Regions from separate parts of the Homo sapiens genome. Here regions 1, 2, 3, 4, 5 and 7 are each linked to region 6. Evidence: fine-mapped expression QTL. A gene starts in region 6. Each other region holds a variant in brackets. All regions are shown on one strand. Distances are between the middles of the regions. Region 1 has its middle 46 kb from the start of MTSS1. Region 2 overlaps MTSS1 (MTSS I-BAR domain containing 1). Region 3 has its middle 28 kb from the start of MIR4662A. Region 4 overlaps LOC105375741 (a long non-coding RNA gene). Region 5 has its middle 34 kb from the start of MTSS1. Region 6 holds the start of MTSS1 (MTSS I-BAR domain containing 1). Region 7 has its middle 54 kb from the start of LINC00964.

The links. PIP is the estimated chance that this variant, and not a neighbour inherited with it, causes the effect. A credible set is the group of variants that fine-mapping cannot tell apart.
Region 1: its variant is the best candidate, but not a certain one, in a credible set for the expression of MTSS1 in whole blood (TOPMed, PIP 0.55).
Region 2: its variant is the best candidate, but not a certain one, in a credible set for the expression of MTSS1 in whole blood (TOPMed, PIP 0.53).
Region 3: its variant is the best candidate, but not a certain one, in a credible set for the expression of MTSS1 in whole blood (TOPMed, PIP 0.55).
Region 4: its variant is the best candidate, but not a certain one, in a credible set for the expression of MTSS1 in blood mononuclear cells (TOPMed, PIP 0.82).
Region 5: its variant is the best candidate, but not a certain one, in a credible set for the expression of MTSS1 in monocytes (CEDAR, PIP 0.85).
Region 7: its variant is the best candidate, but not a certain one, in a credible set for the expression of MTSS1 in subcutaneous fat (GTEx, PIP 0.53).

Annotation. Positions count from the first base shown.
Region 1 is chr8:124,772,801-124,776,867 of GRCh38, reverse strand. No RefSeq gene overlaps it. Among named protein-coding and RNA genes, the nearest start is that of MTSS1, 46 kb to the right of the region's middle. The variant A/C (reference allele first, on the strand shown) is at 1,791.
Region 2 is chr8:124,628,172-124,632,238 of GRCh38, reverse strand. The region is part of intron 3 of MTSS1 (MTSS I-BAR domain containing 1); the gene reads left to right. Among named protein-coding and RNA genes, the nearest start is that of NDUFB9, 91 kb to the right of the region's middle. RefSeq lists enhancers at 1,861-1,930, 2,137-2,431, 2,591-2,640, 3,814-3,863, 3,894-3,953. The variant C/T (reference allele first, on the strand shown) is at 2,396.
Region 3 is chr8:124,792,300-124,796,366 of GRCh38, reverse strand. No RefSeq gene overlaps it. Among named protein-coding and RNA genes, the nearest start is that of MIR4662A, 28 kb to the left of the region's middle. The variant C/AC (reference allele first, on the strand shown) is at 1,624.
Region 4 is chr8:124,750,633-124,754,699 of GRCh38, reverse strand. All of the region lies in intron 2 of LOC105375741 (a long non-coding RNA gene), which reads right to left. Among named protein-coding and RNA genes, the nearest start is that of MTSS1, 24 kb to the right of the region's middle. RefSeq lists an enhancer at 2,363-2,904. The variant A/C (reference allele first, on the strand shown) is at 2,405.
Region 5 is chr8:124,760,290-124,764,356 of GRCh38, reverse strand. No RefSeq gene overlaps it. Among named protein-coding and RNA genes, the nearest start is that of MTSS1, 34 kb to the right of the region's middle. The variant T/C (reference allele first, on the strand shown) is at 1,621.
Region 6 is chr8:124,726,882-124,730,948 of GRCh38, reverse strand. MTSS1 (MTSS I-BAR domain containing 1) reads left to right here and starts at 2,476. Exons shown (of 14, transcript NM_014751.6): 1 at 2,476-3,065. The coding sequence starts at 2,994. It overlaps LOC105375741 (a long non-coding RNA gene), which reads right to left and starts at 2,410. Exons shown (of 3, transcript XR_002956670.2): 1 at 883-2,410.
Region 7 is chr8:124,886,045-124,890,111 of GRCh38, reverse strand. No RefSeq gene overlaps it. Among named protein-coding and RNA genes, the nearest start is that of LINC00964, 54 kb to the left of the region's middle. The variant T/C (reference allele first, on the strand shown) is at 1,932.

The DNA of each region.
Region 1 (4,067 bases), 46 kb before region 6:
GTTGGCCAGGCTGATCTCGAGCTCTTGACCCCGTGATCCTCCCGCCTCGGCCTCCCAAAGTGCTAGGATCACAGGTGTGAGCCACCGTGCCCGGCCCATATTATTCTTAAAAATAAGGAAAACAACCAAAAGATAGTGGACTCTTATAAAATCCCCTTGGGAGCCAAAATTCCTTGGACCCATGAAAACAGTGTTCATCTGCTGACTTTGTCAAATGCCAAAGGAAGCAGCTCCAAAACAGAAATGTCTGTCAGAAGTCACTGTGGAGGGCTGTCCTCTGTCTTCAGAGTGCAGAAGGCACACAGAGTCTGTCTGCCGAGTGAAAGCTGCAGGACCAGCCCGAAGACCCGGAGTGGTACCCCAGGCAGCAAGGAGAATAGGAATCCAACAGAGAGGAGCGGTCACCCAACTTGCTGCCAGCAGGAGAAAAGCCTTTTCCCCACCCCAGCCACTGAATTTCTACCAAAACCAGGCCAAAAGACGGGTACATCTAACACCCCACCTCCTGACCCACGCCACACACATCCATCCATCCCAGCTCTGGGCACAGACTAGAACTGGAAGAAGGAAGGTCTTGTTGCCAAGAGACTGTGAATGCTTATGTCCATTCAACTATTTTAATGAATTTCTGATGTGCTGCCAACATGACTGACCCCTGCCTTTTGCCAAGGGCAACTGGCTGGGACCCTTCCCTTCCCCTCCCAGTAGGGACCCCTCGGCCTGTGGCCCAGCTGTGGCCCTGAGTGACTGCTCCACTTTGGTACCGTCCTTAGCTGGCATCCTGTTAGAATCAAGGCTGCCTCAGCAGCTATCCTCAGCCTGCAGAGAGTCATGAAGGGAAGACTGCCTCCTCTCTGGGCCACTGCATCCCTTTCTAGTTCCTTCAAGAAAGGGTGTAAATCTTGGACACTCCATTTTTTTTTCTTATGGAAAACTGAACTCTTATGCTAAGGCCTACATTTCCTGCCATGAAAGCCTTCCCTGTAGACTTCCCGGGGCCGCAGTCTCCACAGCACTTTGCTGGGCTTTTCCCAGCACTGATCTCATCACTTTGCCATCAAGTGTCACCCTGCTTCTCTGTGAGCTCAGGAGGGGAGAGGCTGTGGCGTATCATTCCTGTAGTTTCAGCACCAAGCACAATGTCTGACAGCACGTGGAGTTCAATAAACACTGGAATGAATGAATAGATGAGATAAGCTGGGGCAATACAATTCAGGCTGATGGAGGCCAACAGAGTCAGGACAGGATATCGGGATTCAGTGATTTGTTCTGAGACAAAGCTGAGTGGCTGACCTCCTAGTCTAAACCACCCTCAGCTAGCTGGGCACGGTGGCTCACTCCTGTAATCCCAGCACTTTGGGAGCCTGAGGCCGATGGATCATCTGAAGTCAGGGGTTCGAGATTAGCCTGGCCATCATGGCGAAACCTCGTCTCTACTAAAAATAAAAAAAAAAATTAGCCGGGTGTGGTGGCAGGTGCCTGTAGTCCCAGCTACTTGGGAGGCTGAGGAGGGAGAATGGCGTGAACCCGAGAGGCAGAGCTTGTAGTGAGCCGAGATCAGGCCACTGTACTCCAGCCTGGGCGACAGCAAGACTCCATCTCAAAAAAAAAAAAAAAAAAAAAAAGACAGCTTGGAGTCCAGGACAGCAGGAGTGACATCTGTTATGAGTCAGCCTGAAGCTCATAAGTTAATTTTCCTAAGAAGCAGCCCTAGTTACATCACTGGTCTGCCCCACACCTTTAATATCTTCCCATCACCTATCAAGAGAAAGTCTTCCTTGGTGGAAGCC[A/C]AACTGCCACCCCCCAAGCATATTTCCTGCATATTTTGCATACATCCTACCCTCCATTCGATACACTCTTTACCCTTCTTCCAACATACAGCTCAAGTGCAGCTTCTACCCTTTGTTCACATTGCTATTCCTCCACTGGAATGCCCTCTCTACTTGATCCCTGATTCAGTCTTTCCATCTTTCAGTGATTCCAAATGCCATCCCTCCTTCAATCATGCTTTTGCTCATCCCCTAAAACTCAAGTGATGTTTCATCCCTTTGAACTTGTATTTATCTCTGAGGTAGGCATTAAAGGCCAAGGTTCAAATCCTGGTGTGTTGGTATGGTGGTTAATTTTATGTGTCAACTTGACTGGGCTAAGGGATGCCCAGATAGCTGGTAATACATTATTTTGGGGTGTGTCCGTGAGGGTATTTCTGGAAGAGATTAGCATTTGAATCAGGAGACTGAGTGAAGAAGATTCACTTTCACCAGTGTGTGCAGGCATCAGCCAATTCATTGAGCACCCGAATGGAGCCAAAAGGTGGAGGAAGGACACATTCTTTTCTGCTTGAGTTGGGATATCCATCTTCTGCACTCAGACATCAATTCTCCTGGTTCTCAGAACTTTGGACTCAGACTGAGACTTAGACTATTGGCTTCTGCAGTACTTAGGCCTTCAGGCCTGGACTGGAACTATACCATCAACTGTCCTGTGCCTTCATCTTTACAGTGGCTAATTAGGGGACTTCTCAGACTCCATAATCATGTGAGTCAATCCCTCATAATAAATCTCTTTCTATATATCTCTACTTCTTCTATTGGTTCTGTTTCTCTAGAGAACCCTGAGTAATACAGTAGGATTCTCCCATTTCCTACATGTGTACCTTGAGCAAATGATTAAGAAAACTGGGCCTCTGATGCCTTCTCCATAAAACCAGAAAATCAACTGAGATCATGCACATAAAGTATCCAAGGTTCGTGACACATAATAGAATATCAACGAATGTTTGTTTTCACCTTAGTTGGTCTTGTCTTGTATTACAGTGAGGTAAATAATGTTTCTACCATCCCCAGCTCATTTCTAGAGCAGAAAATCCTGGCAGGAGTTCCCCAGTTTTTGCACATTTAAATGTCCTCCACACTATCGCTAGCACAATGCCTTGCACACAGTAAATATGCAATCAGTATGTGTTGAATTTGGGTAAGAGTAGGGAAAATCAGTAAGAATTTACTTTTAACTAAAATTTAATATCTGAAAGAAATGTACAGAGTTTCTGTAATAAACTAACCTAGGAAGCAGAGACAAATGATAGAACATGACCTCGGGCTCCAAGACTGGATTTTACATTATCTGGCTGTGAGATGCCGGAAAAGCCATTTACTTTATAAAAAAAAGCCTTAGTTCCTGTGTCTTTGAAGGGAGATATTAATAGAACTTACCTCATAGAGTTCCCGGGGAAAAGTAAATGAGATCATACATTGAGTGGACAGCACCAGGTACCTAGGTAGCACTCAATCAAATCAAAACTAGGGTCATTTCTATGGGGATTAAAAGAAGACAAAGATGAAGTATCATGAGAATTAAAGTTACTGAGAAGAGACTGAAATATAAATCTAATTAATTTTTTTGAAGTCCCTAAGTGTGTTCTTTAATTATAACATTTGTTTAATATTTACTTGTTTAATGTTTTTATAAAGAGAAATATTTTATAAACATGGAGTGAAATGTTTTAATTAATATGAGTTGTCCAGAATTGCTAAGAATGCCATCACACCATCATCTTAAGTTCTGTGGAAAGTCTGTATCTAGCTACTAGGATGGCGAGACCGTGCCGCAATTTTATTGTCGTCGTTCATTTATTGAACGCCTACCATATGCCAAGCACTTGACAAAACATACTCAAAGTCAAGGAGCATCCCTAGTGGTCTAGTGGTCAGGATTTGGTGCTCTCAAAGTACAAGGGCAATACATTAAAAAGATTCCTACCAAATTACTCCTTTTTGTACTAAAACTGTAAAACAAGAAAAAAAACAGAAGAGAATTGACACATACGTAGGTCCTTTTATAAGTTCGATGGTAGAAAGGGGAATATCACACACCAGGGCCTGTCGTGGGGTGGGGAGATGGGGGAGGGATAGCATTAGGAGATATACCTAATGTAAATGACAAGTTAATGGGTGCAGCACACCAACATGGCACATGTATACATATGTAACAAACCTGCACATTGTGCACATGTACCCTAGAACTTAAAGTATAATTTTTAAAAAATGAAAAAAAAAAAAAAGAAAACT
Region 2 (4,067 bases), 99 kb after region 6:
GTTATGGTCATAGTTCACTGAATCCTTGAACTCCTAAGCTCAAGGGATCCTCCTGCCTCAGCCTCCCAAGTAGCTGGGACTACAGGCATGCACCACCACACCTGGCTAATTATTTAAATTTTTTTGAAGGGATGGAGTCTCGCTATGTTGCCCAGGCTGGTCTCAAACTGCTGGGCTCAAGCGATTCTCCTGTCTTGGCCTCCCAAAGTGTTGGGCTTACAGGAATGAGCCACTGCACCCGGATGCTCCTTAACTTTTCTCCTCTTTCTCTTTGCTTTCTGTTAAAAACCAAATGACACAACCACCATCATCAGCAGCAGGCCCAAAGCTCAGATCTGTTATTCCAGTAGCTGCAGTGGAAGAGCCGAGTGGGTGGACAGGCAGTGGGGGAAGCCTGAGCTTTGCTGCCTCTGCCTTTGGAGGGCCGTGGGTGTGATTCTGTAAGCAGTGGAGAGCCACCCAAGGCACAATGGGATCAGACCCGCTGTAGGAGGTTGGCTAAGCAGTGGTGCTAAAAGCAGTTTGAATTGGAGAGACAGAAGCTGGCAGGCCCGAGGGCTTTCATAGTCAGAACCTGAATGGTGGCTTTGGGAGTGAAGTGAGTGGACTATGGAGGGGATCAGAGAAATTTTAGTGCCAGAGATGCTCAGACTCAGGATGAGATGAGGGGCAGGGTGGCATTGACCAGGAGTTAAGGTCTGGTGCACGGTGAGGTCACCAACAAAGCCTGGGAGCATGGAGGAAAAGGAGAGTTCTGAGGAGGCAGTGGCCTGCGGGCCAGGACAGGGTCTGAGCTGTGCAGCAGTGTCGGGACTGTCGTGTAGCGCTCGTCTTTTCCTAGCACGTGGACGTACTCTTTAGGGTCCAGAAGGGCTCATGTCTTGTGAAATCAGGTTGCTGTGTTTGCTGGCTCTGGAAGTAAAGGGCGTTTTGTGTCATTAGGGAGATTGGTGGGTCAAGGTAGTGACCTTTGTCTGTGCTGTCCTCGGGAGCACCCAGCTGTGGCAGCGTGCCTGGAATCCGAGTCCAGGAGACCTGGCCTGTCCCCGTGCCCCACCTTCCCAAAGCTGCTGATTCCTTACTCTTTGCCTTTGACCTCTGTGCTGCGTGTATGTTTCAGGCTCAAGGGCGAATCCTCAGGGTGCAGGCCAATGAAATGCTCAAGTGCTCTCAGTCCTCCTTATTTTCCCTTTCTTATACACATGTTTCTGGCTCCAGGTGTAGTTGGTAACTTTTTATCTCAGTGATGATGCTGCCTTAAATACATGTGTATTTAGGAACATGCTGGTAGGTGGCACAGCATTGCAATATACCAAGCAGGTTCAGAATGCCATGGCCAAAGGCCTCCAAAGGTTTCCATAATGATGAGAAGTAATGAGAGGCAGAATCTGGTGACTTGGGTTCTAAGCTTTATGTGTTGATAGCAGAGCCAGCTGGTCATTTTTTTTGTATTAGATTTTGTGCTAAGTACTTTATTTGCATTATTTTAATTTCCTCTTAAAACCACCTTGTAAGTAGGTACTGCCCTACAAATGAGACAGTGGAGGCAGGTTGGGGCTATGTAGCTCATTGTAGGTCACATAGAAAGTGAGTAGTGTGGCTGGGGCTGGTACCCGGATGTTTCTGACTCCAAAGCCTGTGCTGTAGACCAGTGCTTCTCAAACTGTCCAGTGCCTGTGAATGGCCTGGAGCCTTGTTAAAAATGTGGGCGGTGATGCAGTGGGTCAGGCAGTGCTGGGGCTCCATGATCTTGCTGCTGGCCCATAGGCCCCCTGAGTCACAAGTGGCCTTTTTCATCCTCTTCTTCCTCCCAGCCTTTCTCCACCTCCTCTTTCAGGTCCTCCCCTCTGTTCCTGCTCCCACCCCACCCCCACCTTTCCTCCCATGTGGCTGACAGTCTGCTCGGGTAGCCCAGGCTGCTTGCCTGTTGGTGACTCTGTTGATGGATGGCTTGCCAAAAGATGTGGTGGCCCCCATTCAGCCCAGTGGCATGGGGTGGGCTTAGACTGGGGCCCTTTAGGGTCCACAACCTCTTTGGGCTCAGGGAGGAAATAGGTCACTTCTGAAGGTGACCTCTTCCAGGGGAGGTAGAGGGAAGTTAACTCTCCCTGGTCATTTAATTAAATGTAAATGCCTTTGGTCTAAAAGTTTTAAGCAATTTTACAAGATGAATTATATTCCATGGAGCAGGTGAAGTATTTCAAGAAGCTTCAGACAGGATTAAGCAAGCGGGGCTGACGCAGCTGGCTTGGCCTTGCCACATCTGTCCTCAGCGACTCAATTCTTTACAGGGTGATGAGTCAGCAGCCACTGGGCAGTAGCTCCATTTAAGAACGCACGGTGTGTGTGATATGTTTTTAAAAGATGACAGTTAAAATGATAAAGACTGGTTATT[C/T]GGATGATTCACTTTGGAAAGGCCCCTGGTTCTTCCCAGATGGAGGGGGGTGGCCTTGTGGTGTGGTGTCTGGGAGAGAGAACCCTCCCCTCAGGCAGGCTGTGGCCTCTGTGTGTTACGATGGAAACTACCTGTCCAGCCTCCAGCAGGACAGGAGGCCACTTAACGTTGGAGGCACTTGGCTGTCTCACCAACCAGGGATGTGGGAACTCGTGTTTCAGGTCTGTTTTAGGGAGAGGTCAGATCTCGGGCTTCAGAGTTAGGTACCGCTATAGCTAAGTATCCAGCTCCAGAATTTCTTTTTTCTTTTTCTTTTCTTTTTTTTTTTTTTTTTTTTTGAGACGGAGTCATTCAGGCTGGAGTGCAGTGGCGTGATCTTGGCTCACTGCAAGCTCCACCTCTGGGTTAACGCCATTTTCCTGCCTCAGCCTCCCAAGTAGCTGGGACTACAGGTGCCCGCCACCACACCTGGCTAATTTTTTGTATTTTTTTTAGTAGAGACTGGGTTTCACCGTGTTAGCCAGCATGGTCTCCATCTCCTGACCTTGTGATCCGCCCGCCTCAGCCTCCCAAAGTGCTGGGATTACAGGTGTGAGCCACCGCGCCTGGCCATCTAGCTCCAGAATTTCTTAGCTGTGTAACTTTAAGTGGCTTAATCTCCTTAATTCGAGCCTTAGTTTTCTCATCTATAAAATGGGGGTGATGATAGTGCTTATGCACAGGGCTGTTGAAAGAATGAAGATGAATGAATGAATGAATGTGTACACAGAGCTTAGGCCTAGGCCTGGCTCATGAGTGCCCAGCACTTGTGAGCTCTCATGATTAACTCATTTCCCTCCTGCCCCAAGGACCCTCTTGGGAAATAAAACCTCCCTGAAGATACTTTGGGATCCTGTAAAATCCGTGTGTGTTACTTTCAGGGTCTGCTGTGGTGTAATGGAAGAAGTGCAGACTTCGGAGCTAGACACCACCTGGCTTTGAGTCCTAGGTCTACCCACCTATGGCAGGTTTCTCTTAGCCTCAGTTTCCCCATCTTTAAAATGAGGATGGGCAATGAAGAATTGCCTCAGAGGGTTGTTGCGAGGATTAGATGAAATTACACAAGGTACTTCTTGGAGTTCCTGGCTCACTGTAGGCATTTAATCCATGCAACTTATTATTTAGCTGACAAAATGCCTATAATTAGATGTTAGGGAAATTGCTGTCATCGATGGGGAAAGTTCCCCAATGGAGTTGGAACTGTTGACTCTGCTGTCCTGGCTTCTCCAAGTCCTGCCATCATTTTCTTCTGCCCCTTCCCAGAGCACCTGCTGTGGGGGCTGGTGGGAGCTCCAGGTTCCACAGCTGAGCCGTGGGGAGCAGAAGACAGAGCTTTCCTGCTAATAAGGATCATAAATGCCAGCCCTGGGCTGGGCAAGCATCCTGCTGCCGGTTCATATCACTGGATTTAGCATCCTGTGGCGGTGGTTTAATTGGAAGAGATAATTGGTGCCGTGTCCTGGGGAGTATGATCTGGGAGTCGGATGATAAGACTGACGCGGCTGATGTCTTGGAGCTCAGACTCGCAGCCTGGGATGGGAAGCACCCGTTCTCAGCAAACTTTTGGTTTCTGTTTGTATTACTGACCTGCTCTGTACTTTTCATCACTGCTAGTTTGTTGCTGTTGTTGTTG
Region 3 (4,067 bases), 65 kb before region 6:
CATCTCTGGTAAACACGGCTTGTTGTTTGAGATGGTAATAATCACTGCGGCTCTTTGTTCAGTGTCTTTTGGCTGACTTTCAGTTCATGAGGAAGAGTCTGTATTGAAGCCAATTTGAATTGATTTTGCAAGTAAAATTTCAGGGGACAATGTGCCAGGTGTCTCAGAGAGCTGGAGTCTGGTGGATTCTCTGTCATCTGCTCACAAGAACCCTAACTCACGTTTGTATGGTGAGCCACAGTTTTCAAAGCACTGTACTTTCACATTCGGTATTTCATTCTATCTTCACAATAACATTGTTAGGCTAATATTGTTCTCCTTATTTTGCAATTTTCCGATTTAACAGATGAGAGAAACAATAAGAGCTTAAGGGGTACGCCTAAAGCTATATATATTATTTTACAACTGAGACCATAGAAATACAAAGAATTATTAGAGACTATTATAAACCACCAGGAGGCTGAGGTGGGTGGATCACCTGAGGTCAGGAGTTCGAGACCAGCCTGGCCAACATGATGAAACCCCATCTCTACTGAAAACACAAAAAATTAGCTGGGTGTGGTGGCAGGCGCCTGTAATCACAGGTACTCAGGAGGCTGAGGCAGGAGAATCACTTGAACCTGGGAGGCGGAGGTTGCAGTGAGCCGAGATTGCACCACTGCACTCCAGCCTGGGCAACAAGAGTGAAACTCCATCTCAAAAATAAATAAATAAATAAATATTTAAAAAATAAACCACTATACACCAAAAAATTGGAAAACCTAGAAGAAATGGATAAATTCCTGGACATGCATACAACATACCAAGATTGAACCATGAAGAAATAGAAAATCCCAGCACTTTGGGAGGCCAAGGTGGGCCGATCACTTGAGGTCAGGGGTTTGAGACCAGCCTAACCAATATGGTGAAACCTTGTCTCTACTGAAAAAATAGAAAAATTGGCTAGTTGTGGCAGCGGGCACCTGCAATCCTAGCTAATCGGGAGGCTGAGGCAGGAGAATTGCTTGAACCTAGGAGGTGGAAGTTGCAGTGAGCCGAGATTGCGCCACTGCACTCTAGCCTGGGTGACAGAGTGAGACTGTGTCTCAAAAAAAGAGAAAAGAAATAGAAAACCTCAATAAACCAATAATGAGTAATGAGATTGAAGCCATAATAAAAAGTTTCCCATCAAAGAAAAGCCCAGGATCTGATGGCTTCACTACTGAATTCAACCTTACATTTAAAGAACTAATACCAATTCTATTCAAATGCTTCAAAAAAATTGAAAAGGAAAGAATACTTCTAAACTCATCCTATAAGGCCAGCATCTCCCTGATACCAAAACCAAATAAAGGCACAACAAAAAAAGAAAAATACAGGCCATTATTATTGATGAACATAGATGCAAAAATTCTCGATGAAATACTAGCAGACCAAATTCAACAACATATTAAAAAGATCATTCACCATGAGCAAGTGAGATTTATCCCAGGGATTCAAGGATGATTCAACATACATAAATCAATAAATGTGATGCAACACATAAAACAGAACCAAGAACAAAAACCATATGATTATTTCAATAGATGCCAAAAAAGCATTTGATAAAACTCAACATCCCTTTATGGTAAAAACGATCATCAA[C/AC]TGAGTATAGAAGGAACATATCTCAAAATAATAAAGGCCATATACAACAAATCCACAGCTAACATCACACTGAAAAGGGAAAAATTAAAGACTTGTCCTCTAAGATCTAGAACAAGACAAGGATGTACACTTTCACCACTTTTATTCAATATAGTCCTAGAAGTCCTGGCCAAAGCAATTAGGCAAAAGAAAGAAATAGAGGGCATCCAAATTGGAAAGAAATAAGTCAAATTAGCCTTGTTTATAGATGACATGATCTCATACTTAGAAAAATCTAAAGACTCCACCAAAAAATTGTTAGAACTGATAAGCAAATTCAGTAAAGTTGTAGAATACAAAATCAACATACAAAAATCAGTAGCACTTATATACATAAACAGTGAACAATCTGAAAAAGAAATCAATTCCATTTACAATAGCTACAAAGAATATAAAATATGTAGGAATCAATGTAACCAAAAAAGTGAAAGATCTATACAAAGAAAACTATAAAATGCTGATTAAAGAAATTGAAGAGAATACAAAAAAATGGAAAGATATTCCATGCTCATGGATTGGAAGAATTAATATCGTTAAAATGACAATATTACACAAAGCAATTTACAGATTCAATGCAATCCATATCAAAATACCAATGACAGTTGTCACAGAAATAGAAAAAAATACTAAAATTTATATGGAACCACAAAAGACTCTGAATAGCCAAAGCAATCCTGAGCAAAATGAACAAAGTGGGGGCATCACACTACCTGACTTCAAAGTTTACTACAAAGCTATAGTAACCAAATCAGCATGGTACTGGCATAAAAACAGACATATAGACCAATGGAACAGAATAGAGAACCCAGATATAAATACATGCATTTACAGCCAATCCATCTTCAATAAAGGTGTCAAAGACATATAATGGGGAAAGGACAGTCTCTTCAATAAAAGTTGCTGAGAAGACTGGATATCCATATGCAGAAGAATGATGCTAGACCCCCGTCTCTCATCATATACAAAAATAAAATCAAAATGGATTAAAGACTTCAGTCTAATACCTGAAACTATAAAACTACTAGAAGAAAATAGTGAAGAAATGCTCCAGGACATTGGTCTCAGATTTTTTTTTTCTTTTTTTTGTGACAAAGTCTTACTCTCTCCCCCAGGCTGGAGTGCAGTGGCACGATCTCAGCTCACTGCAACCTCTGCCTCCCGAGTTCAAGCGATTCTCCTGCCTCAGCCTCTCAAGTAGCTAGGATTACAGGCACCCACCACCATGCCTGGCTAATTTTTGTATTTTTATTAGAGACAGAGTTTCACCATGTTGGCCAGGCTGATCTTGAACTCCTGATCTCAAGTGAATGGCCCACCTCGGCCTCCTTAAGTGATGGGATTACAGGCGTGAGCCACTGCGCCTGGCATGGTCTGGGATTTTTTTGTGTAAGACCTCAAAAGCACAGGCAACCAAAGCAAAAACAGACAAGTGGAATTACATCAAGCTAAAACCTTCTGCACAGCAAAACAAAGTTAAGAGATGACCTACAGAATGGGAGAAAATATTTGCACACCACCCATCTGACAAAGGATTAACAATCAGAATATATAAGGAGTTCAAACAACTCAATAGCAAAAACCCCAAATAATCAGATCTAAAAATGGGTAAAACATCTGAATAGACATTTCTCAAAAGAAGACATACAAATGGTCAACAGGTATATGATACACCAGACCTGAAATATAGGAATGAGCATCTATGAAAATAATTGGGGGAGAAGCATTTCAAGCAGAGGAAACAGAGCATGCTAAGGATATATACAGATAGAAGGTAAAGAAGAGAGCGATGTATAGATTTCTTTCTGTTGCTTTTTTTTTAAATGGGTTTATAGAGTTTTATACATTTATTTTAACTTAGTATGTCATAAGCATCTTTTCATGTCATTAAACACTTCCAGGATTGTTTCATTTTGTTTGCTGTTATGAACAATGGTGAATTGAATACCTTGTTTGCAAAGATATCCATCCACTAGAATGGTTATACTAAAGAAGACATTACAAAGGATTGCTGATGATATAGAGCAACTGGAACACTTGTGCACTGGTGGTGAAAGTATAAATTGATACAACTACTCTGAAAAACTCTTTGGCAATATCTACTACAGCTGAGCATACACTTACCCTGTGATTCAACAGTTCTACTCCTGGATATATACTCAACAGAGGTATGTAAATATATCCATCAAAAGATGTGTACAAAAATATTAACAGCAGCACTATTTGTAGTTGCAAAAAACAAAACAGAAACAACCCAAATATCCATCAACAGTAGAGTAATGGTGGAATAGTCATAGAATGAAATCCACATGGTAATTAAAAGTAAACAAACTATAGCTCCACACAACATGAATGAATCTCAAAAACATAATGTTGAGCAAAAGAAACCAGCCACAAAAGGTGGATTC
Region 4 (4,067 bases), 24 kb before region 6:
TTCTGACTGGGCCTTGGCTCAAGCCTGTTCCCTCTCTCAGACTAACCACTGTGAGCCGGAGAAAGGACTTCCCTGGGTGACTTGGACCTTACTCCAGTGATTCACCACTGGAACCAATGTAGAGGTCAGCTTCACGCAAAGCACATGGCTGAAAGTGGGGGTAGGTGTTTTCCCCAAACCTAAATCAAGCAAGGTAGAAATAGGCAACAAAATAACAGATGTCCAGCCAGGTGTGGTGGCTCACACCTGTAATCCCAGCACTTTGGGAGGCCGAGGCGGGCAGATCACCTGAGGTCGAGAGTTCGAGACCAACCGGACCAACATGGAGAAACCCCATCTCTACTAAAAATGCAAAAGTTAGCCAGGCGTGGTGGCACACACCTGTAGTTCCAGCTACTCAAGGAGGCTGAGGTAGGAGAATCGCTTGAACCCGGGAGGTGGAGGTTGCGGTGAGCCGAGATTGTGCCATTGCTCTCCAGTCTGGGCAACAAGAGCAAAACTCCATCTCAAAAAAATAAAAAATAAAACTATAACAGATGTCCCCTGCAGCTCATTTGAAAGTAATTCAGCCAACATTCCTAACATAATGTGGATTTGCAACAGGTGGGTTTAACAGCAAATTTTGTTTATCACAGCTAAGAATTCCTTTCCTGTGTTTGCCAGCCTAAACAAGAAATAGTTTCTATGAGGTTTTCATTCTTCTTCCACGAGTTCATTTGTCCTTTCAAATATTTTCTGAGTACTAATGAAGACAATAAAAATAGTTTTCACACTTACTAAACACACATATAAAACATTATCTCATTTAATTCTACTACTAGCTGATAAGTTCTCAAGCAGGGGTGATTTTGCTCCCCCAAGGACATTTGGCAATGTCTGGAGACAGTTTTGATTGTCATAGCTCCAGGGCTGCTACTGGCATCTAGTGAGTAGAGGCCTTGAATGCTGCTGAACATCCTGCAATGCACAGGACAGCCCTCCACAGCAAAGAATTATCCAGCCCCCAGTGCCGATAGCATGGAGATTGAGAAAACTTATACGTGCTCGTGACACTATCTTCACTTCTATAGATGAAGAAAAATGAAGCTTAGAAAAGTTAAGCAACTTGTCCAAGCTTATGCAAGGTACGAAGTAGTAGTGGTTGAGATTTTCATCCAAAGCCCTTGCTTTTATCTGTTGATAATTAAGCTTGGAATTGGAACTCAGTGTCCCTCCACTCTATCCCCACCCACTCTAAATTCTGGGTCAGTGGATTGGTACCCATAGGCGTTACTGTAACAGGATTGCGGATGATGTCAATGTAAGCAGCTGACAAGTGTTTGGAGCCCCTGCAAGGAAGAGGCCCTGCACACATTGGTGCCAGGCCTGGGGGAGGCAAAGATGTGTGGTCTCTCGAGGAGACAGGTTCATGGGCTGCTATGACACACAGTGGGATGAAAGCATAATGACTGCCATTTCACACCTCCAATCTTGGTACATGCTTTCTCCTCTGCTTGGAATTCTTTTTGCTCTTCTCTTTTCTAACTTCTCATCCTTTAAGCTCATCTAGAAAGCTTGCCTACCCTCCCTCTCTACAGTCTGTTTCAGGTGTCCTCTGTGGTCCCATAACATACTAAACAGAATGGAACAGTTCCACTCGTCACACAATACTGTAGTTAGAATTTGACTTGGCTGTGTCTCATCCCCTGGACTATCAGCCACCTAAGAATGGAACCCACAGCCATGAACCTTTGTGCCCAGCCCAGTGCCTGGTGGTGGGGTATTTGCCACAAATTACTATTTGCTGTTCGTCTATTCTAGGAGTCAGCAAACTTTTGCTGTGAAGTGTTAGATAATAAATATTTTAGGCTTTGCAAGCCATCTATCATCGTAAATACTTAATTGTTGTTGTAACACAAAAATATCCATAGAAAATATGAAAATGAATGAGCTTGGCTGTGTACCAATAAAAGTTTATTTACAAAAGCAGGCGGTGGGCCAGATTTGGCCTGTGGGCCACAGTTTGCTGACTTTTGTCTATTAAAATAACCATTCTTCCATCAGTATGTCCCCATAAAATTTTAGATGTGCACATTGCTGCCAAACAACCTCCAAAATACAGTTATATTTTCCAGCCAAATATGGACACGTGAATAAATTCTAGCCAATGTATTTGGAGAAGCATTATTTGGGACTCCTTGGAAGGCTGTTTAAAAGCAGGTGATTCATTTGGGAAAGGCCCCTTTCCTCCCTTCTGTTTTTCCTCCTTCTTCCAACCTATGAAGGGCTCCAGGTATCATCTCAGGCCGTGAGGTGACTTTGAATAAAGAAACCGCAAGCAAGGAAAGGAGAGCAGAAAGTAGGAGCCAGAGTCCCTGACAACACCAGGGAGCCGCCATGCTTTTCCTGCATGGCCAACCTGTAG[A/C]CTTTACATGAGAGAAAAATGAACCCTGTCTTGTTTAAGCCACTGCATGTGTTTGTGTTATTATTGGCATGAGAACGTAATCTTAACTATATACCATCGCGTGGAAACACTCAACAAATATCAGAGCAGTGAGAGGAACGCTCAAAGCATCAGGGAGAGCCACAGAGGAAATGAGTTCTGCTGGGTGGGTAGGGAACCATGGAAACAAACACAGGGGCCTCCTCAGGCTCTTCATGGTTAAGCACCCAGGGTGATTCACATCTCTGGCCAGTTCCTTCCGGCCTCTTTCTTCCTCCCTACAGGGGACTTTCTTTTTATAGTGTCTTCCATCAGCTACTCTATCTTTGGAGGCATCCTTCTTCAAGTTTGTATGTCATAGAGAATTCAGTTTGCTACAAGAGATTGTTCTGTTTCTTGTCAGTTTTACTTACTGGACACCAAGGAAGAGCAGCTGGAAGAATCTCCTAAGTGACAAAAGAGCAGTGCCTACCAGAGTGAGGACACGGAACAGGTCCTTCTTGCCATGGTCACTGATGTGATTGCCTTCTGTTGCCAGCAGGTGGGTGGCAGAAAGGGGAAAGCCTGGCTCTAGCATCAGATAACCCTGAGTTTAAATAATGACTCAGTCTCTGGGCAGTGTGGCATTGGCCAAGCCACGTCATTTCCCTAAGAGTCAGTTTTTCTTTCTTTTTTTTTTTTTTTTTTTTTTTTGAGACGGAGTCTTGCTCTGTCGCCCAGGCTGGGTGCAATGGCGCCATCTTGGCTCACTGCAAACTCCGCCTTCCAGGTTCACGCCATTCTCCTGCCTCAGCCTCCAGAGTAGCTGGGACTGCAGGTGCCCGCCACCATGCCCGGCTAATTTTTTGTATTTTTAGTAGAGACGGGGTTTCACCATGTTAGCCAGGATGGTCTTGATCTCCTGACCTTGTGATCCACCCACCTTGGCCTCCCAAAGTGCTGGGATTACAGGTGTGAGCCACCGTGCCCGGCCAAGAGAGTCAGTTTTTCAAACTACAAAATAAGTCAATCATCACTTTCTCATAGCACTGTTATAAGAATTAGACAGTGAAAGGGTGGCCGGCACAGAGTGAGGGTTCAAATGATGGTTCTGGAAACCCCTCTCTGCCTGCTACCCTGACGATGAGGATGAGAACTTGGCATTTGGGTGGATCCCATGCCACTGCTTTGGAAGGGCAAAACCCCCCAGCTTTCAAACTTAACACTTCCTTCCTTTCCTCTTTTCTTAGCCTGTCGCCACACAATTGAACTTCCTTTGTATTCTTTCACTCGCCTTTAAAGTGCTAGCAGAACAATCATTAGAATCAGTAAAAAAAAAAAAAAAAAAAACCCTATTTTTTTCCCTGACATTATTTCATACAACCAGCCTCACTTGAGTCCTGCAGAGACATCCAGTGCCACAAGGACATTCTCAATGTCACAGTTACTGGCCACGCACTTTCACTTTCCGATGAATGAGGCCTTGGCACGGTCATCTCCAACTGAACAAGTGGTCACATGACACTTTAAACCTGGAGGCCATTTCCATAAAGGTGTCTTACAAATACAAAATAGTCCACATCCCAGGAGAGGTCTGAAAAAGCTATTAGTGCTATGCAGTGGAAATGAACAACCCAAAAAAAGCTGCCAGCAACGAACAGGACCC
Region 5 (4,067 bases), 33 kb before region 6:
GCCTACACCAGATTTTAAAATTTGGAATTGAAAAATTAGCTGGGCATGGTGGCAGGCACCTGTAATCCCAAGTACTTGGGAGGCTGAGGCAGGAGAATTGCTTGAACCCGGGAGGTTGCAGTGAGCCGAGATTGCGCCACTGTACTCCAGCCTGGGCAACCAAGCAAGACTTCACCTCAAAAAAAAAAAAAAAATTGGAATTTGTTTTCAACACTTAAAAATCAGAAAAGTTTACATTTAAAAAAAAATTAGATTTCTGGCTTCTCTTGACAAATTGAAAGATCTGGCAATACGGAGCCTATAGTACCACATGGCAATCATTGTCCAGAAGGCGTGCTGTTTGGTTCATCACGGTTCTTACCCCCTGCCTACTTCATTCTTTCATGTAACTTGACTGACCCCAAAGACATTTGCACCTGAGATCCTTGAAGGAGACAACTGTTGGCCTGTGTGAATTGAAGCCCCTGCCACTTGTGGTATTTCTGAGGATGTGGAAGATCCATGACATAGTATTTTGTGATTTAACTGATGAACAAGTGAATTTGACTCAGGTATAGACATATGAATCAAAGAACGTGAGAAATCCCAAAGAGCATAACATTTGTTCCTAGCTTTACTGAAATCTAAACAGCAAAAACTGTATATATTCAAGTTGTAGAATGTGATTTTTGAAATATGTATGTGTTAGGAATAACGCTAAAAAATTTTAAGGAAATTGAACACTTGAACAAAGGATTTTTAGCAAAGCAATTTTATTTTTGGGCAGAGGGGTGCCTCCTTGGCTAGTCGCCATGAGAGCCCACCTGAACAAAGGGCACGAGAGCCTTTATTTTTGACGGCAAGTCTTGCCCCTGCACTCTTTCCCCATTGGCTGGGGTCAGGCTGTATAATTTAAAATAATCCCAGTTGGCTAAACGTTTGAATTTTTTTAGGTAAGGTGGGCACGTAAAAGAAAGTGGAGAGGAAGGGGAAGGGGTGTGTGTAATGAGCTAGAAAGTTAGTCTTCTTTTTAAATAAGGAAAGGAACGTGAGCTGGTACTGATAATGCCTGTCCTGTGGCGTGCCTGGGCATCTAACAAATGCAAAAAGGAAAAAAAGGAGAAAAAGGAAAAAAAGGTGGGGGGGGGGGCGTTATTATAAATTAAAGAATAAAAGATTGATTAGATTATTTGAAGAGAAACCTCATCATATTCCACATATACATTGGGAAATGATTACCACTATCAAGCTATTAGGTTGGTGCAAAAGTAATTGCAGTTTTTGCCATTACTTTCCCACAACTCAGAACTTACGCAGATGAATGGAAGCCAAGGGCTGACAGGTTTCAGATTTGATGATGAGATTGTAAAGAGATTCAGCATGTAGTGGGATTTGGGTTATACCACATCAAGATCCTGCCCAACACTGAGATTTTATGGTTCTATGGTTTGGGGAACATGTTATCTTTTAGAAAGGATGGCTCTAGGACTGTTGGAAACACACTTTTATAGCCAATGTGCTTTTCAGATGCCCTTATATCCAGAGTCAACCAGGGTAAAATTATGTTCTCACCAGAGTCTTGTTTAACATCTTTCTTCTTCTCTCTTTTGTCTATTTTCCTTGCACTTCTGACACTTCTCA[T/C]TGGATGGTTTGTAGGGCTCAGAGAGCCTGTGGTAATTAAAAAGGCCTGTCTCTGGGGTCAGACTCCAGATTAGCTCTAGAATTCAGCCCTTATGAACTGTGTGATCTTGGGAAAGTGATACGACTTCTCTGGGCCTCGATTCCCTCATCTGTATTATTTGGAGACAATAGTGGTACCTACCTCATGAAGTTGTTGAGAATATTAAGCAATACATCTAAAATAACTATTAGAGGTTCTGCCATGAAGAAAAGGCTCAAAAATATCATCAACAGCAAGACCATTATTATTAAAAGAGTCAGCTCCAGAAGTATTTGTCAAAAGTGACTTGGAAACACTGTGTTCCCTGAGGAAAGGGCCCACATTCTTGTTTATTTTCTAAATTCTTGCCCCTAGCAGAGTTCCTGGTACATGTGGATGCTTAATAAATGTCTGTAAATAGGTAAGTGAAAGAATAAATGAGTGGATGAATCAATAGAGGTTGAAGATTAAGAGATATTTCTGTTGTAAGGTTCTACAGAGGTTCCAAAAGAAGACAAGGAAGGTGGAAGAGGAGGAAAAACACTCACCGAGTGTTGCGGGGAAAACAACAGCTGACGAGGTTAGTCAAAGAGTGATTCATGGGCCAAATAAGCCCAAAAGGAGAAGTTCCCGGTACCACCCCACAACTTGGTGGTGGAAACTTTGAGAATTAGTCAAGAGGGATGGCCCCAAGGGACCGTTTTGTACTGATTTGGGTTTCAGGGTTGAGAGAACACGATGGAAGTTTTCAGAGTGAGGCACTTGGGTAATCTATTTTGGAGGAATTATCTGGAGAAAAGAAAATGAGAACTGCCGGTAACCTTTGTGTGATTGCGTTAAGGTAGGAAGGAGGTGATTCCAGGACATTCTCATAGCCTGGTTTTTCAGGCCCAGTGCGCCGTGGTGTCCCATGCGAATTACAGTTGGAAATTTAACAGTGTGATGACGTGTGAGATAGACTAGCAAAGAAGCAAAGTGTTCATAGTGAAGAGACTGTGTCCTACATGGGAGGGGACTTTTTAAGCAAACTTTTTAAGATATAAGATTGATAAAGGAAAGTACATAAATCAGAAACGTACAATCCATGAATTTTCAAAACATGGAATGTCTACATTGCCAGCATCATGATAGAGAAGTGAGTTCTAAACATAACACACACTGCGCCCATCTGGGATATTTGGCAGAAAAGCAGATTTCTTGGCCCCACTGCGAGAGACTGTGATTCAGTAGATCCAGCGTTTGACCCAGGAATCTGCATTTCTGTCTACACTGCTAGATTCCAGTAAGGGTGGTCCACTGGGTGAGAACAAGCTTCAGAGTCATGCAAACTTGCACTTGGAATCCTACCTTCTCCTTGAGTGAGTAGCTTGACCTTCTCACAAAGACAGTAGGGGCAATAGTACTTCCTCATAGGTTTGCTTTAAGGATTAAATTAGAAAATGCATATAAATCAATAAAAACTGTTGGGCATGGTGTTGACCACACAGTAAGCACTCAGTGAACATAGAAAAGCATAAACGCCCACAAAAAAGACGAGGCTCGGTCCCCAGGTCTTTGTGCCCAGCACCTAGTCCAGAGCTCATCACACAAGGCTAAGGGAGTATGGTGTGAGAGTTAGCAACACGGGTGATATGGTTTGGCTCTGGGTCCCCACCCAAATCTCACCTTGAATTGTATAATCCCCACGTGTTGTGGGAGGGACCAGGTAGGAGGTAACAGAATCATGGAGGCGGGTTCTTCCCATGCTGTTCACATGATAGTGAATAAGTCTCAAGAGATCTGATGGTTTTATAAAGGGGAGTTCCCCTACACATGCCCTCTTGCCTGCTGCCATGTAAGACGTTCGTTTCACCTTCCACCATGATTGTGAGGCCTCCCCAGCCATGTGGAACTGTAAGTCAATTAAACCTCTCTCCTTTATACATTACCCAGCCTCGAGTATGTCTTCATTAGTTGCATGAGAATGGACTAATACAACAGGTTAGCAGTCAGATACCCTGGGGTGTGAGTTCGAGTCCTGGCTTTGCCACTTACTAGTTATGTAATCTTGGGCAAGTTACTTAACAGCTCTGACTCAGTTTCCTTATCTGTAAAATGAGAATAATAACACCTACTTCATAGGGTGACTGTGGGGATGAAATGAGAGAATCAGGAAAGACCTGAGCCCTGAGCCCTGAGCCCTGAGCCCATGGCCTGGTCCCTGCAAAGAGCTCAATAAAAGTTGGCAACTCTATGATTTACAGCTGAAGCTGAGAATGTTCCACCCCTGGGCAATAAAAAGGTACTCCTCAGAGGCATTCTGAGGGGAAACAGGCCCCTCTCTCTGATAACATTAGCTAAATGCTTCTTTGAAAGAGCAGTGTAATAAAAAGGCTAAGAGTTGGATGTTTATTACTAGGCCAAAGTGCTACTACCGTGATTATGGGCC
Region 6 (4,067 bases):
CTCCTGCCATAGCCACGTAGACACAGTTGGTAAAATGTAATCAGAATCTCTTTAAATATATGCAGAGCCAGTCTAAAAGAAGGGAAGTCCCCAACAGCCAGAAACAAAGGAGAATCTGAAAACAAGGAAAGAATGTATGACAGCTGGCCAGGCACAATGGCTCACGCCTGTAATCCCAGTACTTTGGGAGGCCGAGGCGGGTAGATCATCTGAGGTCAGGAGTTCGAGACCAGCCTGACCAACATGGAGGCTGAGGCAGGAGAATCGCTTGAACCTGAGAGGTGGAGGTTGCAGTGAGCCGAGATCGCGCTACTGCTCTCCAGCCTGGGTGACAGAGTGAGGCCCTGTCTCAAAAAAAAAAAAAAAAAAAAAAAATTGCCAGGTGTCACTCCCACTTTCCTGCATCTGGGAACACTTTTCCAGCCTCCCTTTCAAGGAGTTCTCATGAGAGACAAGGGCCTGGTGGTCAGGCCCAGGGAAAAAGGCCACAAGAGAGGTATGCTTTGGCAAACATTGCTAAAGTTGGGGTATTTGGGGCATTGAAATTTAAGCATGTGGCAGGAAAGCTAGACCAAGTGTCCACTGGGCTAAGGCCCCTTATCCCAGGAGTTCAGGAGGCTGGGTAAAAGAGAGACCTGGGGCATGGAAGTCAGAAAACCAGGGTTGGATTCCTTCCAACAGTGCAACAAGGACCAGAATGATAATTTCCTTCAAGTAGACATAATACGTATAAAATGCCCAGAATGCACACAGTAGACCCTCAGCAATGTGCCTGGGACAGCACACCAATGTTACAGAAGTGAAATGGGGCCAGGGCTGGACCTGAGCCTTGGCCTCATCCCTGCTTCTTCTGTTGATAAGATTTATCGAATGATTACTTACGAGATGCCAGGTACCACTTGAAGTGCTTTCATCGATCAGCTCATGTAATGTTCAGAACAGCCCTATCAGGTAGAAGCCATCATTATCCCCATTTACAGATGGATGAGGAAACTGAGGCCCAGAAAGGTTAAGTAACATACCTAAAGGCATACAGTTAGTAGGTTGTGAACTGGAGTTTGAATCCAGGCAATCTGGCTCTACAAGCAGTCATCTTGATAGTTAGAATACCAATAGTATTAAAATCACAATAATGATTGGCAGCAAACGATGTGTCAAGCACCCGTTATTGGCAAGGTGAAGATGAGTCGGATGCATTCGAACGCCCTTGGGGACAGGATCCAGCAGGGGTGATCAAGAGATCAGTTACTTCCTGAAGGTAACACCCTTCCGGGTGATTTCGGGGAGACGGATGGGGAAGGTGGGTTGCAGTTAAGAGTTGGGCAGAGTGATCCAGGGGAACATTATCTTCTGCAGCTGTGCTGTGTAACTCCATGCATCCCTTTGATCCATAAAGTTTTCAAAGCCAGACCTTTTCCCATTACGGAGTGAATCTGACACAAGTGTACAGAATTTTGCACTTGGTTTCTTTTGGCCCCACTCCCCCCAGTCTTTTCTTTTGTTATGTTTTGTGCTTCAAATGGTTAGCTCAAGGGTTAAAGGAACTGTCCGGAGTTAGGTGCCTATGTCTTAATATCTTTTAAAAGTTGCTCATTTGATTCTCCTCCCTCTGGCCCATTTGGCGTTCATCTGAATGAGGGCTCCTGGTTATGCAGATAGGCAGTGGAGCTGTGAAAATGGACCACTAGGCCCCAAATCAACCTGGGCACATTTGCGCTCTGCAGGTTCAACCTCCCAGGAGGGCTCCCTGCGGTTATACCAACGCTGGCTGCTCTCAGTGGGCCTGAAAACCATCAACCGTCCAAGTCATAGGCAATCAGCAATCTCGATAGACTGATGGATCGTGGACAGAAGCTCTAACGCTGTTTCCATTCATTTAGCAACAGCAAATCAATCCACTTTCCCAGCATCCTGCAACTTTATCGAACTCGGCATCCCATTGCAGGATACGCCCCCGAACTCTCCTTAATTATATATTTCGCTATTTGCAATCAGGACTCGGCGATGCAGTCCTGACATCAGAGAATGGGCGTCTTCTCAGAAGGCCGCAGTAGCGGCAGCAGCTTTCCCGCCCTACTGAGCGCTCACTACAAGCGGGCTCTGGGCTAGGCGCGCCACCCGTGCAAGTCCCCGGGGAGCGGCGGTGCACCCTCCGTCCCGCGCGCTCGCAGCCATTGTAGGGGTGGGCGCTCGCCAGGCAGGGTGCCGACACGCCCTCTCCGCGCTGCGACGGGCGGCCGGGGGAGGAGAGGGTGCGCTGTGCGCACCGGAGGGAGAGGCTCCGGCCCAGCGCCGCCTGCCCGCCAGCAGACCAGCAGGCTCCTCTTTGCGGCGGGTGCCCCACGCGCCTCTCGGGCGCGCGCTCCCAGCCCCGCCCGCGTGCGGCGGCCGCACGGCCGCGAGAGCGCGCCTCCGCTTGGCGGGCACGGCCGCGAGCGCGCGTGCGCCCCTCCGAACGTCCCCGGGAGCCCAGCCAGAGCGAGCGCCGGGGCCGGGCGCGCAGGAGTGAAAAGGAGGCGGCGGCCGCAGCTGCGAGCAACAGATCCGGACGCCGCGAGCTGACCCGCTCTGCTGTTGGGCGATTTTTTTTTAATTGCAGAAAAATTTATTAAATTGGAAAATCTTGCGTTTTTCAATGGCGCTGGCCCCGGGTCAGCGGGCGATTTTCTCTGCATCAAGATGGGCTTTGCCGTTTCCGTAGTGGGCACCAGTGGTGGCCTGATTGTCAGTCTTCTCCCGGCATTTTTAAGGCCAGGAGCCGAGCGCTGCTTGTAGGCGAATACCCTACAGAGCGGTTTGGCTTTTTAAATTACTGTTATTATTTTGGGCAGAGAACAGTCGGTCTGGTGCACCCCGTCCTCGCTGCAGAAGAGGCTGCGAGTCCGAGGTGGGTCTCTCGGAAGGTGAAATTCCTTCTGGGGTGAGCGAGCCCCGGCCCCGCGCGCAGTCCAGCGGCCCCGCGTGTGTGCCCTCGCCCTGCCGGAGCCGGGAAAATGGAGGCTGTGATTGAGAAGGAATGCAGCGCGCTCGGAGGCCTCTTCCAGACCATCATCAGCGACATGAAGGTAGGACGCCGGGGGTGCGGCTGCGGCGCCGGCCGCCGCGCTCTGACCTCGCCGCCGCGCTTCGCCTCCACCCCGGGCCGGGCACCCGGCCCTTCCCTGCAGTGTGGCCACCGGCCACCTGCGGGAGCTCCCGGCCGGAGTGTCACCTGCTCACCCGGGGCGCTGCTCCGGGCTCTGCGGGGTCACTGGGCGGGTGGCTTCTCTGGGGGGTGTCTGCTGTCCCACGCCATCTCCCCCGCTCATTGTCCCAGGGGGCGGCACCATTTCTTTCCCTCGGGGGCTCAAGGCACTGGCTGCAAGTTTTCCCATTGTCTGTCCCTGAAGTAAGTGTCTGGGACCCGCGGGGGCTGGATGCCCGGGAGGACACCTGATTCCTCCGGGCACGGGGTGGGGGCGCCTGGCGCGGTGGTGGGGAGGAAGTGGGGGCTCTGCCCGCTCGCAGGAAGGAGTCCCCTAGCCTAGGAGACTGAGAGGGAAAGCCAGTCCCTCCTTGGCTGTCAGGTCTACTTGGAGTGGGGTATCTGAGCAAATTAGTTATTAATTGGGCCGTTCCGAAGCTGGTAAAGGTGTGCGTGCCCTCTCTTAGCCCTCCCGCGGGGCGCGGGGCCGAAGTTCCCGGGCAGCCTTGCAGGGGCCCCGCCTTCTCCCAGCTGAGCCTAAAGGCAAGATTGGGGCCCCCGAAATAACTGTATCCTGCCCTCCCAGACCCAAACGGACACACACTCTAGGTTTTCTCTTGGAAGGGTTGTGAAGATGGTGTGTGTGTGCGCGCGTGCATGTGTGTGTGCGCGCGCGCGCGTGGGGGCGGGGAACAACACCCTGGTTTTTTCCTGCAAAGGGTGGGACTGGGGATAACCTGATCCTCGGATGTGGATTTTCTGGTGCCTAGAGATAGACCAGGGCCCCGTGTTATTCATCCAGAGGAAATAAAACCAGCCGCGCGAGCTGGCTGGAGGTGGGAATTGGGAGCGGTGGGGGAAATTATTTTTTTAATGTGTATTT
Region 7 (4,067 bases), 160 kb before region 6:
TCCAAGTATTCAGAATGAAACAAATTTTGAAAGTCAACAGATTAAACCCCTTTAATCTACCTGTCCAGTAGAGTTCTTCAGCTTTCAGTAACATGGTAGAAAATATCTTTGAATGGATCATTAGATTAGATTTCCCATTAGGGGAATCCAAGTTGAATCAATGATGAGAACTCAAATAGAAAATCTAGACTTATAAAGTGAGTTTTCCTGAATTGCAGTGAGGAATCTTTCATCTTCTAGCTTTAATTATTTTCTTTTGTTTGCATTTAAAAATGTGAGTGACCTTGAACAATTTCAAAGCGTAACAGGGACACTGTGGGGCTGGGGTGAAGACCCTAGCCTGAGAATTGCGAGGCTGGGGTCCCAGTTCATACCTGCTGTCAACTCATTTTAGACACTGTGTCAAGTCATCTTGCCTCCTTGAGACTCAGTTTCCTCTTCTATAAAATGAGAGGGTAGAGCCAACAATCCCCACATTATTGGCCTTTTGATCTTTTTATGGCCATTCTCTCCCACCAAACCAGAAGCACCTCTAGAGTTGAGATTTGGCTTTTTCACTATTACATCCACAGTGACCAAATATGCATTAGTTCAAGTGAATGAAATGGAAGATCTCGCCAGTTCTAAATTCAGAAGTGTCCTCAATATTGCCTTCCCTCATGTTCCGCACATTCAATAGGCACAAGGCTGGGATGCATTATCCAAATTTCCTCTTTGGGACGGAGGCCCTCATGCCCAGAGATGCTGGGAGTGTCGTGTGTCCCCACCCCTACCCCACAAAGAGAGCTACCTGGCTAAAGGTTATGCTCCTTTCCTGGGGCACCTTGCATTCAGTGACTGGTCAATGAAGGGGTATAAATGCTTGTTTCCCTTTGCTGCAAGGCAGGGCCATCCCAGCTCCAGAGATCCCTGTGGGATCCACTGACAGCCTTTGTTGCAACTGTAACACAGGCCACCTTCTCCCTCTGCCCAGTCCTGCTTCTTTCCCTTCTGAGGTTGTTCATCTTGAGATTCCCCCCTTCCCCCAGTGAGTTTCCATCTCGACGTCCGTTTCCCCAGAAACCTAACCTGTGACAGTTGGTGCCAGGAATGACCTTAGGAAAGAGACTCTGAGAACTCCATCACTGGTGGCAGGTAGAGCAACAGCAGTCCCTGTCATGTGCACCAATGCAATTGACACTGTCCCCAGTGGTGAACTGGGATAGTACACCAGGTGGGAGCAATAGATCAGGCTAAGCTTGTGGACAGAGTAGTATAGACACAATAGAATTGGATGGCTGTTGTTGGAGAAAACAGATCCTTTTGAACAGGAAAAAAAAAAAAAAAAGACCCTCAATGATAAGAGGCTGAAGGTGTTTTATCAGCAATTAAAGGCTAAATGTGAAAGCCAGAGGGCCTCTTGTCAGCATACAAGAAACTCTTGAAGCCAGGAGAGAAGATAGAGCTGAGGATAAGGACCAGGATTAATCATAAAAGTAGCCAGATTCTCAAGAAGTTTACATTCCCGAATAGAGCAGAACTGCTGCGGCAAAGTCAGGATCTAATGAGAAAAAATGGGGCCCTGAGATGCAGTGGGGATATCTATGCCAATGTCTCTAGATAACTCGGAGCCCTCAGGGCCTGCAGACGCAGCCCACAGCTCCCTGTTCCAGGTTCTCCTCCCCACGCTCACAAGATGACTCAGAGGCCTCTACCTTGTAACTCTCTCTCCCCAGGACTTTCCTCCACCTCCCTCCTGGCACTAGATCAGGAGCTACGAGGTTTGTCACAATGTAACTCAGACAGGGAAGTCCTGGGTCCAGCAAGGAAGGAATAGCATTATCCACCAAGTGAGCTGGGTGTGGGACATGGTCTGCACAGTCTGCACGTACAGTCAGAAGCAAGAAGGAATAGGACTGGATCTTGAGAGTGCTGGGTCCAGAGGATCAGAA[T/C]GTCAAGCTGGCTGAGGTAGTGCTTATCAGCACTGGGGCACTCTATCATAATGTGGGATTTAACATCGTGGCAAGGACTGTGAAAGATGGTGCTGCCATACTGCTAGAATGGTCCTGGGAAGCTCTGAGAAAGCCTAGCCAACACCAGGTGACAGAATGCCAGGTCATGGTGGCAGATTTGGAAGGAGTCAAAATATCCGAGAAGAGGACATGCTAGAATGGATATACTTTTAAGGCCTGAAAACCTCCTGCAGAGAGGAAACTCTATCTAGCAAAGTACTAAGAAATGCTCTGGTGTTAGGGTGCTGGTATTTCTGAGAAGCTCAGTGGTAGCCCTCCTCTGAAGACCACAGCTAGTGGTAGGAGATGTAGTAACCAAACTGGGTTCCTGGTAATGAGAGAATCCTAAAAGAATAAAGGACAGATAGTGCTTAACCAACAGAAGTAAGATCCATGCAATTATTATAATTAGTGGCAAAGTAATATTGTGTCCTAGGAGGGCTTGGGGGAGCCCACGGTGACCAACCATTCTGGTTTTCCCAGGGCTGAGGGATTTCCAGGGAGGTAGAATGTTCAATGTTAAAACAGGGACAGTCTCTGCAAACCAGGATGGTGATCATCTTAGCGGTGGCCCATCTAGAGCAGGGATGGCTAAAAAAATAAGGCATACTGGTCAGGCATGGTGGCTCACACCTATGTTCCCAGCACTTTGGGAGGCCGACGGGGGTGTATCACCTGAGGTCAGGAGTTCAAGACCAGCCTTGCCAACGTGGTGAAACCCTGTCTCTATTAAAAATGCAAAAAGTAGCTGGGTGTGGTGGCGGGCGCTTGTAATCCCAGCTACTAGGGAGGCTGAGGCAGGAGAATCGCTTGAACCCAGGAGGTGGAGGTTGCAGTGAGCCAAGATGGCACCACTGCACTCCAGCCTGGATGACAGAGCGAGACTCTGTGTCAAAACAAAAAAAATAAGGCATACTTAGGAGCAAGAGAGACGGACAGACTTGGAGGATACTGCTCAATATACAATCAGGACGTTAAGGGCAGCTAACCCAATACAAAGTAAAGATCCCTTGCTCAGTTTTCAGAACTAAGCCTATATTCAAACTCAGAACACATTGACTGAGAGAGAGGCCGAGTACCCAGGAGGAAGGTCCTGCGACACCATGGCAAACATATCTGGCAGTGATTTCCCCAGTCCTTTCCCAAAGCGATCTATGGCCATTTACTCAGGTAATTACACCCAGGGGAAAGGGAGACAGCTGAATATTTCAAGGATTACTGGACATAGGGTCCAACATATCATTGATATTTAAGACCTGAAGGGTTGACATGTTCCTGCCGGTAGATTTGGGACCTGAGTTACCAGGTAATAAATCGAGTCTGGCTCACTATGTTTCCATGGGGTCCACAGAAGAACCTAGTGGCCACTTCTCCAGTCCAAATGTACAATTTGAGTGGGTATACTTGGCAAGTCACTGAGCACCCACGTTGGTTCTTTGGTTTGTGAAGTAAGAGCGAGTGTAGTGGGTAAGACCAAGAGAAAGCTCTTGAAATTGCCACCTCCCGACAGCCAACATGGTTAACTAAATTAATACTGTGTCCCTGGGGGGACAGTAGAGACTAGTGCTACCCTTAAAGGCCTAAAAGCGCGATTCTTGACCATGACTCCACTTAATTCTCTCATCTGCCTCCTCCAAAGTCTAGATGCATCCTGCGGGATGATAGTGGACTCCTGCAAAGGTGTTATTTCAATTGTAGCTGCTGGGTCAGAAGTTGGATCTGAATTAGAGCCAGCTAGCTTGGTCTCAGGCACACTGGAGGCTGCCACTGATTTGGCAAATGGGTCTTTTTTTTTTGGAGGCAAAGTATTGCTCTGTCACCTAGGCTGGAGTGCGGTGGAGCGATCTCAGCTCACTGCAACCTCAGCTGCCTCCTGGATTCAAGTGATTCTTCTGCCTCAGCTTCCCAAGTAGCTGGGGTTACAGGCATGTACCACCACACCCAGCTAATTTTTTGTATTTTTAGTAGAGACGGGGTTTTGCTATGTTGGCCAGGCTGGTCTCGAACTCTTGGCCTCAAGTGATCCGCCAACCCTGGCCTCTCAAAGTGCTTGGATTACAGGTGTGAGCCACCACG